2 separate regions of the Homo sapiens genome follow, and region 2 is reported to be linked to region 1. Evidence: microRNA targets listed by miRTarBase, many of them from high-throughput screens and not tested one by one. Region 1 holds a microRNA gene; the other region holds the end of a gene's coding sequence. Distances are from middle to middle.

Evidence for each region. The annotated mature microRNA hsa-miR-6837-5p reads ACCAGGGCCAGCAGGGAAUGU and lies in region 1 at 2,327-2,347, opposite strand. An mRNA with a match to its seed (bases 2 to 7 or 8) in the 3' UTR can be bound and repressed. Matches are read on the target gene's strand: a 7mer-m8 pairs with bases 2 to 8, a 7mer-A1 pairs with bases 2 to 7 and ends in A, and an 8mer does both.
Region 2: the mRNA of WIPF3 is a reported target of hsa-miR-6837-5p. Seed matches in the 3' UTR shown: 7mer-A1 at 2,894-2,900.

What each region holds. Positions count from the first base shown.
Region 1 is chr7:44,049,727-44,054,117 of GRCh38, reverse strand. MIR6837 (microRNA 6837) reads right to left here and starts at 2,352; the gene lies at 2,289-2,352. DBNL (drebrin like) reads right to left here. Exons shown (of 13, transcript NM_001014436.3): 2 at 3,838-3,893; 3 at 2,176-2,288; 4 at 1,177-1,251.
Region 2 is chr7:29,913,742-29,918,132 of GRCh38, forward strand. It overlaps WIPF3 (WAS/WASL interacting protein family member 3), which reads left to right. Exons shown (of 9, transcript NM_001080529.3): 9 at 752-3,320. The coding sequence ends at 775. Among named protein-coding and RNA genes, the nearest start is that of FKBP14-AS1, 73 kb to the right of the region's middle.

The sequences.
Region 1 (4,391 bases):
TTCATAAGAAGCCAGACCCATGACGTCATTCACTGTTGCTATACAGGTTGAGCATCCCTTACCTAAAATTCCAAAATCTGAACTGCTCCAATGAACATTTCCTTTAAGCATTATGTCAGCACTCAAAAAATCTCAGATTCTGGGCTGGGCGTGGTGGTTCACGCCTGTAATCCTAGCACTTTGGGAGGCCAAGGCGGGCAAATCACGAGGTCAGGAGATCGAGACCATCCTGGCTAACACAGTGAAACCCCGTCTCTACTAAAAATACAAAAAATTAGCTGGGCGTGGTGGCGGGTGCCTGCAGTCCCAGCTAATCGGGAGGCTGAGGCAGAAGAATGGTGTGAACCCGGGAGGCGGAGCTTGCAGTGAGCCAAGATCACGCCACTGCACTCCAGCCTGGGCAACGGAGCGAGACTCAGTCTCAAAAAAAAAAAAAAAAAATTCAGATTCTGGAGAATTTCGGATTTTGGATGCTGAACTGAAAACATTCCCAAATCTGAAAAAATCCAAAACATTTCTGGTCCTAAGCATTTCAGATAAAGGATACTCAAACCTGTATATCGATAAGCTGGGAATTCTCTTATCAGCTCCTAGATGGAAACTGAGGTATAGCTGAAGAAATGTTGGCAGAACGAGAAATCAAAATTCTGAGTCTCCTTTGCCAGAGAAATGCAAAAAGTTACCTGACAAGTGACCAACAAATGCTTTTGTTACAAATAGTTTTTAAAATTTAAAAAGGTTCTATTATAGGACTGACATAACTCCATGTAGAGGGGGCTGGAAAGGAATGCATCAAAAGGGCACATGCGTGCTAAGATGGTGGGCACTCTCCCCTTCCTCCAAATCCTGACGGTATTACTAAACTGTTTAGAGGGATCATAAAACAAAACAGAACCAGGGCCCACCCTTCTCACGGCACCAGCTCCAGCATAGTCCTTTATCCTGCCCCACTGAGGCAGGCCTGTAGGTGGCCCTGGCAACATCCTGACCTCCCATGCACTCACTGACCGAGAGTGAAGCAGCCTCTGGTCATGCCCTCAAAGGCAGGCAGAGAGCATTAGCTATGAGCACACTCCCAACTCCAGTTCTGATTCCCACTTGCTCGCACCCAGGAACCTGCGAGACCTCAAGCCTGTGAGGCCTGTTCCCAGTGAAGCGGGCCTCACCTGGCCTTACCTTCAGGAAGCTGGCCATGGTGCTGACGTGGCTGGCACAGGCTCCCTTCCGCACATCGTTCACGCCCTCGCCTGTCTGCAACACAAGGATGCCCAGGTTGACCCAGGCCTCCCCCAAAGCCACTTCCCTTCCCTGGGGACCCAACATCTACCCTGTGTCCCAGAAAAGAGAAAACTGCAACCCCCAAAGCAGAACCTATTCTTCTGACTGCATCACATGGGTGAGGTAAGTTCCCATGCCTCCAAGGGGCTCATGGATTCTCCCTGGGCAGGATGGCTACCGGCTTTCGCTGTGGGGGCATTTCATGAATTTTCTTTTTTTTTTTTTTTTTGGAGATGGAGTCTTGCTCTGTGGCCCAGGCTGGAGTACAGTGGCGCAATCTTGGCTCACTGCAACTTCTGCCTCCTGGGTTCAAGCAATTCTCTTGCCTCAGCCTCCTGAGTAGCTGGGACTACAGGTGCACGCTGCCATGCCCAGCTAATTTTTTGTATTTTAGTAGAGATGGGGTTTCACCATGTTGCCCAGGCTGGTCTCAAACTCCTGAGCTCAGGCAGTCCACCCACCTCGGCCTCCCAAAGTTCTAGGATGACAGGTGTGAGCCACCCCACCCAGCCTTCAAGAGTTTTCTTGATCCCCACCAAGGGATCAAGGAGGCCCTGTCCCTGTACTCCCAGGCTCCTAAACACTCCCTCAGGCTCTCTACTCCATCAGAACAACCACCCTCAAGAGCACGGAGCAAGGACTCCCTGTGACTGCTTTTAATCCATTTTGCAGGAAGAACTCTAGGCTTGGAAGGTGAATTCTGCATAGCAAAGCCACAGTTATTCTTTGGGCCACAATGAATCTGTCAACTATTCTGCTCATTCACCAGCTCAGAGCTGTTCTATTGATCTACTAAGTCATGCCAGTAAAACACTTTGTTCCTGAAGTCAAGTCAAAACAGGAAAGAAGACAATGGGGTTTCCTGGGTCACACCTAGATGAAACAGGCTCCACATACCCAGTTGATGAGGACAAATTTGGGCAGTCCAGAGTTGGGGTCCTTCACTCTGCAGAAGGCGTACATCACCTTCCCGCTGTTGAGCTCCTCCACCATCTCCTCCAGGCCACCCTCTGCAGCAGAGTCACAGTGAAGGTCAGGGGTGGCCCTGACATTCCCTGCTGGCCCTGGTCCCACCATGAAGGGAGGCCGAGCTGCTTCTAAACCAGGGCTTCTCACCTCTACCTGTATCAGAATCTTTCTAGGGGTATGTTTAAAATCAGAGTCCTGGGCACCACCCTCACTAAACTGATTGATGAGAGCTGGGTGGGACCTAGAAGTCTGCGATTCTGACAAGTACCTCAGGTAATTTTTTTTACCCACACTCGTTTAAAAACCACTTCTCTAAACCCAGAGGTAATTCTGGAAATAAAAACAGGGTCATTTCCACGGCAAACCAGCCACCAGACTTCCAAATGGAGGATGGCTACGTCAAAATTTTATTGTTGCCACAACGTTGCAAAAGGGCCCGGAATAGCAGGGCCTGTAGAGTCACCACTGCCTGCACCTGTGTCTGCTCAAGTTCCAGGGCCACCCAGACGGCCAGACCAGATTGAACATCCTGCAGTGGCGTAACTGGCTCAGTCCTCAGACTCCAGAAGAGAGGGTGATGGGGACAGGGGGAGCACAGGAGTGGGCAGCTCTAAACAATTCTCCCTGACACTGAGGCTTAGCCCTCACAAACTTTTCCAGGTTATAAGGAGGAAGAGCTGATCAGGTATTTCATCTACAGGGCTCCGTATGAGTGGAGGCAGTCATGAGCCCCACTCTGGGGACAGCAAATTGTTGCATTTGTGGCAGAGCCCTGTCCTGTGCCACTGGGGATGACAGGAAACTCTCAAGTTGTTGATCTCTGCAACTCCCAGTCACCTGCCACACCACATGTCTACTGTTCAATGGCAATCCTTCTAGAAAGGGGACACCTCCCAGAAAGATTGTGAAAGGAAGGGGCTTTCTACCAACAACAGACATCAAACCGTGGAGAACCACTCCGAGTGTTCATTGAACAATGAAGCCATGTCCAGCTCAGGACAGAGGGAGGGGTCAGGCAACTTCTGGAGGAGGAGCAGTCACGGGTGTCAGCTGAGGGGCCCACAGGTCACACTCTGACGAAGCCTACCCTGACAACCTCTGCTCTGTGCTGGCCAAGAGCCTGTCCTTCCTGTAGAGACCTCCAGAGCCTCCCCCGTGACTATCTGCAGTGATACTGCCTCTCCCAGTGAGGATGGGGCCCCTGCAAGCACTCGGCACAAGACCAGGGCAGGACAAAGGGAGAAGAAGATATGTCTGTGGACTTTCTTTCCACCAGCACCAGTTCTGGGACTGGTGAGCTTCCCACCGCAGCTCCCAACGCAGGCTGCCCACAAGCTGGAGAGGCCTGTTTCCCTCTCAGCTCTCCCCAAGTAGACAAAGAGAAAGCACTCCCCTGCACCCAGAGGGAAGGAGAACCAAGGAGGAATGTTTTCACTTACACATATCTGAAACCTAAGGCCTGCCAGAAGTGGCCAGTGAGCACTGGAAGCCCCATGTGGCTCAGTGGACCAAGACAGCTGAGTGCGCTGACCCCTCGTCGTCACCCTCCTACCTCCTGGTGTCCCTGAGTCCATTTGGAGTCATACTCACCCCCTGTGCCAGCCACGCGGATGTCATTGCTGTTGCCTTCATAGGTAAAGAGAGCCCTGAAACGAAACACAAGTGAGCTCTGTAGCCAGCACCTTGGGTTCCATCTCTCCTCACCGTATCCACCATGACTTTCCACTACATCCCAAAGAGCTTGGGCTGACAGTAACACTGTGGGTGGGCACAGGCCCGTTCTCACTTTGCTCTGACCCACTAGGCAGGTTCTCAGTAGGCAACTGTGCAGCCTTCTCAGCTCTGCAGCTGGGAGGACACTGGCCTGACTTACCATGGGGTGGGGGTTGTGAGGGACAAAGCCATGGAGATGGGAGCACACATCTACTATGAGGAAAACATGAGCTGTGGAGTTTCCCAATGACTGCTATACATTCATGTGTCAAATACTCACCTGGCCACTAGGTATATGGATTTGAAGAGACAAAACATATCTACATATTCCTGAACCCAGAGCACCCAAAAGGAGAAGCAAGTCGGAGAAATACACACACTGGGCCCCTTGGAAGGCTGCCCACCACTCCTGTGCACGTCTGCCCTGGCTC
Region 2 (4,391 bases), 14 Mb from region 1:
CTCTTGTTCAGTGCTTCTTCCATAATGCCTCACTGCTTTTCCTGGCATGTTAGAATCTCCAGGGACAAGAATCCTCCTCACTACCAACGTGTCACACACTGTGCAGGATCTGGTCTCCAGCCTCACGGCAGGCATGCACCCAGATCACCTGAGTCTGGTGGTTTTGATCTCCGCCTGCAAGTCTACTCAAAGTGGATTGTAGTCTCCTTTGGGCATTCCACAGTCAAGAAGATCTTTGTATCTCACTGGATACCATCTTAATTCTCACTGCAGTGAGACACAAAACAATTGAGAAATCACTGGGTTCTAGACATTGCAAACAATACCCCAGGGACTGCTCTTTTTTATGGCTAGAGTGGTCAGTGCATGGGGTGGGAGCCCTGGGCTGGAAGTCTGAATGCCTAAATCGGTTTCTTGCTTTTCCACTGCCTTAACTTGGGGTCTCCAGCACGTTTTTTTTATTTCTCTGAGCTTCCTGTCAAGTGAATTGCTGATGATTGGTTCTATAAATGTTTATAAGACAGTATTAGGTCCTCACATACCATCAACTACATACCCCATTTCATCTGGTTTCCACCCACAGCCCCTTGGGTAAAAGTCAGCTCTTTGCATAGGCATCTCCCCAAACTTGACAGCCTTGCATGAATGAGAAGCTTCGGGGCCCAGCCTGTTTGGGGGGGTGGAGGAGGAAGGCTTTCATGTGCAAGAGTCTTCTAACTCCACCTGGTAATGTTCTGTTATGTTTCCACAGTTATCTCTAAAGACTCTTCGGTGAGAAGACAGATGAAGCGAAGGTCCTGGGGTTCCAGGTTGCAGAACAACATGTCAGACCCCACCCACCCCATGCTCAAGCTGTAATTCAGTTGGCATACAGGCTTGGAATTGAGAATTTATTTATTGTAAATATGTGATTTGCACGGGCTTTAAAGCAGTATTTTAATTGACTTTTATTTCGGTAATATTTTTTAAAACACCCCTCATTTTTCCATTTTTTGCATTGCATCTTGGCATTTGTCAGCACAGATAGAGCCCTGTCCCTCCACCTAGTGCCCACTCCATGACTGTGAATCTGCTTGCAGGCTGGCCCTTCCTAGATTCTGAACCGTTTGTAGAGAGTCCTTAGTTTGCAGGTAGCCCCAAAGTTATAAATATCCACAACGGCTTCTTATTGGCATAATTTCATATTCTCATCACACTAACTGCAAAATCAAACCAAATAATGCCTTATCAATGATGCAGCTCAGAGGAAGTAGCGTGTCCCCCACACCCAGACAGTGCCGCGCAGCCTCCAGGGAACGAGGTGCCATGTCTCGCTTCCATTTTGCAGTACAGGGAATTTTTTTTTTTTTTTTTTTTTTTTTTTTTGCTGCCTAATGTAATACATCACAAAGTAAAGGCAAGAGTGGGCTTGGCCCTCCGATGCCAACCACAGGGCCCCTTTTGTAACTGAATAATCCTCCAAGTAGCCAGTGCTCCTACTGTTTACAGTGTCCCTCGTGCCCAAGTCTCTGTCACTTTCATCCTGTTCCCTCCAAGTTCCCAGTCCCATCCCAGTAGCCAGCTTTATGAGATTTTGGTATTTCTTCCCTACAGATTAAAAACATACACAACTCATCATTATGCTAAACTACCAGTTGTATCTCAGAGGTCTCCCCTTCTGCCCTTGCTTCGAGTGTGGACTTCCATGGAAAATATGACATGAAAAAGTGTAGAACGAAACATCGTGTGAAATACCTGCCACAAATACCTAGTGCCTCACTGCCCCCATCTTAGGATCCTTGGAGCCACCCGTCAGGCAAAACCTAGCTCCCTTCTGAGCTAAAGGAGAACCTTGCCTGACAACTCCACATTCATTCCCTTGTGGTGGGCACCTGTCTGTGGGGAGATGTGTGCAAGCTCAGCCACTCTGAATATGGAAAAGGTCAGGCCGGGCTGGTCCTGCTCTTCACTCCCTCTTCTTGATCCTGTAGGGAGTGGAAATGTGTTTTTGCTTGCTGCCTGACCCCTGATGTTCCCCATCTTTGGTCGGGGAAGACTGTGACAGAGGAAGGAGAAAAAATAGAAGGAAACAGACTGATCCCTGGGCTGTGCTCAAAATAGCTGCCCTTTAAAGGAAATCAGGCAGGGAGGGGAGGGAAACCAGCGAAAAAGAAATTTGCTTTGCAACAACCCACGCACACATTCACCCCTGAAGTATATCATGAACAGACCAAGCCATCCAGAAAGGCAGCCGGTCAGGAGGGTGTGGGCAAACATGACTGCATCTGCCTCACTGTTGTCTGGAGTAACGACTCAGGTGGTGTCCTGCAGCAGTGCTGTGCTTTCTCATTCCAGATGGAAGCAAGTGAGCCAGGGTCAAATTCCCTTCTCCAGGGGAATGAATCAAGCCCAAACTGTAACAGCTAAATAAGTAGAAGTTTTTGCAGGTCATCAGCTCTGGGCATAACTAATTTGTTTTATTGGTTCTGGAAGATTTCCAAAAAGCCAGAATTTATTATTATAACAGTGTCCACTCCACTGCCCTCACAGTTGTGTAAAATAATTATAGAAGTTTTAATGATCCTGATTAAGAAGACCCTAGACAAAGGCAATTCCACCTTCAGAGTAGACTGCCTGCCCTAATGAGGTGTTTAGACATTCGTGTCTCCTATGGCTGGGATGGAAATTAAAATAACACTATTTAAGGACAGAGCGGGCCAGGAGCAGTGGCTCATGCAGGTAATCCCAGCATGGGAGGCTGAGGTGGGTGGATTACTTGAGGTTAGGAGTTCAAGACCAGCCTGGCCAACATGGTGAAACCCTGTCTACTCAAATACAAAAAATTAGCCAGGCATGGTGGCTCACACCTGTAATCCCAGCAACTTGGGAGGTTCAGGCACAAGAATTGCTTGAACCCTGGAGGTGGAGGTTGCAGTGAGCTGAGATGGCACCACTGCACTCTAGCCTGGGCAACAGAGCGAGACCCTAACTCAAAAAAAAAAAAGGACAGAGGGGAGGAAGGAGCAGAAACCAAAAATGGCAATTAGGGAGAAATCTCAGGAATGTGGCATCCCATCTCCCCTTGAGACCTATCACTGAATTCACAACCCTTCGAGCTCATGCTGGTGCACTGAGTCCCTTGGGCGCTGTAAAGGTTTAACCCCTTGACTGTAAACTCAGACTTAGAGACATCTGAGTCACACAGTCCCCGCCATTGTCACATATTCTCACTGACACTGCAGTCTGTGACTCCTCCAATGTTTCACGTGTATTTTATATTTATTGATGTCTCCTTCCGCAGATTCATTTCTTTGTACTTAATAAACTTTAGTAAGTGGAAATGCTTCCAGTCGTTTCCTTGTTAAAACCCATCGGTGGTCACCAGTATCAATCTAAACCAAACATTTTTAAGGATCAGGAGAAGTTGAAGTTCTAAGAATGATAGAAAAAAAATAGATATTTACATGGATACGGTGCTTGCTGTAACATACTGTGTTAGAAACAGGGCCTTTCTTTCTTGAGCTAACTAGCCTAATTGGTATTTGGAAAAAACAAGCAAGAAAAAAAAAATTTCTCAGGTGCATTTTTTAAAAAGTAGATAACACTATATTTATTCAGTTTGATTAACACAGAATGGGCAGTGTATTGCTTATAAATTCTGCTAAATTGTGTTGAAATAGAACAACCTTCCCTCTACGTGCACTTAGTCCCCACTCCCAACTCAGCAAACCCCCCAAAAAAGCCTCCTGTAGGAACAGAATCATCTTGAATCCCCCTGTAGTATTTTAAGGTGGACCTTTGGGAACAGGGTTCAGGGGAGGTGAGATTTATCTGCTAGGCAAGCTATCTCAGAGCTAGTGCTTAGAAGGCAAACCAGGATCTGAATCTCCATTTTGCCTCTTACAAGTTGCCTCTTACAATCTGTGCCTCAGCTTCCTCATTTGTCAAAAGGGGACATAAATATGTACCCGAGTGTATATTGGTGAAGATTCAATGATGTAATACACATGGGCAAGCCCTCAACCCTTGGATCACAACGGAGCCAGTGATGCACACCCTGCACCCCGGGGAGCAGCCAGTTTGCTGGTTCCATGCTTGGGCACAAACAGGGCTCTGCTGGCTGCATCCCAGGCACTTCATTCAGTATTTGCTGAGCTACTCAGACCACACTTCACTAACTCTGCTGCTGGATAACAATGAGAGAGCAGTCATTAAAATTCATAGATGTTCCTGAAATAAATCTCATCTAGAAACTAATTTCAAAGCTGGTTACTACACACTTTGCATCAGAATTAGTTAAGGGGCCGTTTTATTGCTCTCTTATTGGTGGAGGTACAGATTGGCTCTTTGATGGCCAAAAGGGCCAGTCTGAATGGGGAAGAAAAAGTAAGGGCCGAAGATAATCTACAAAG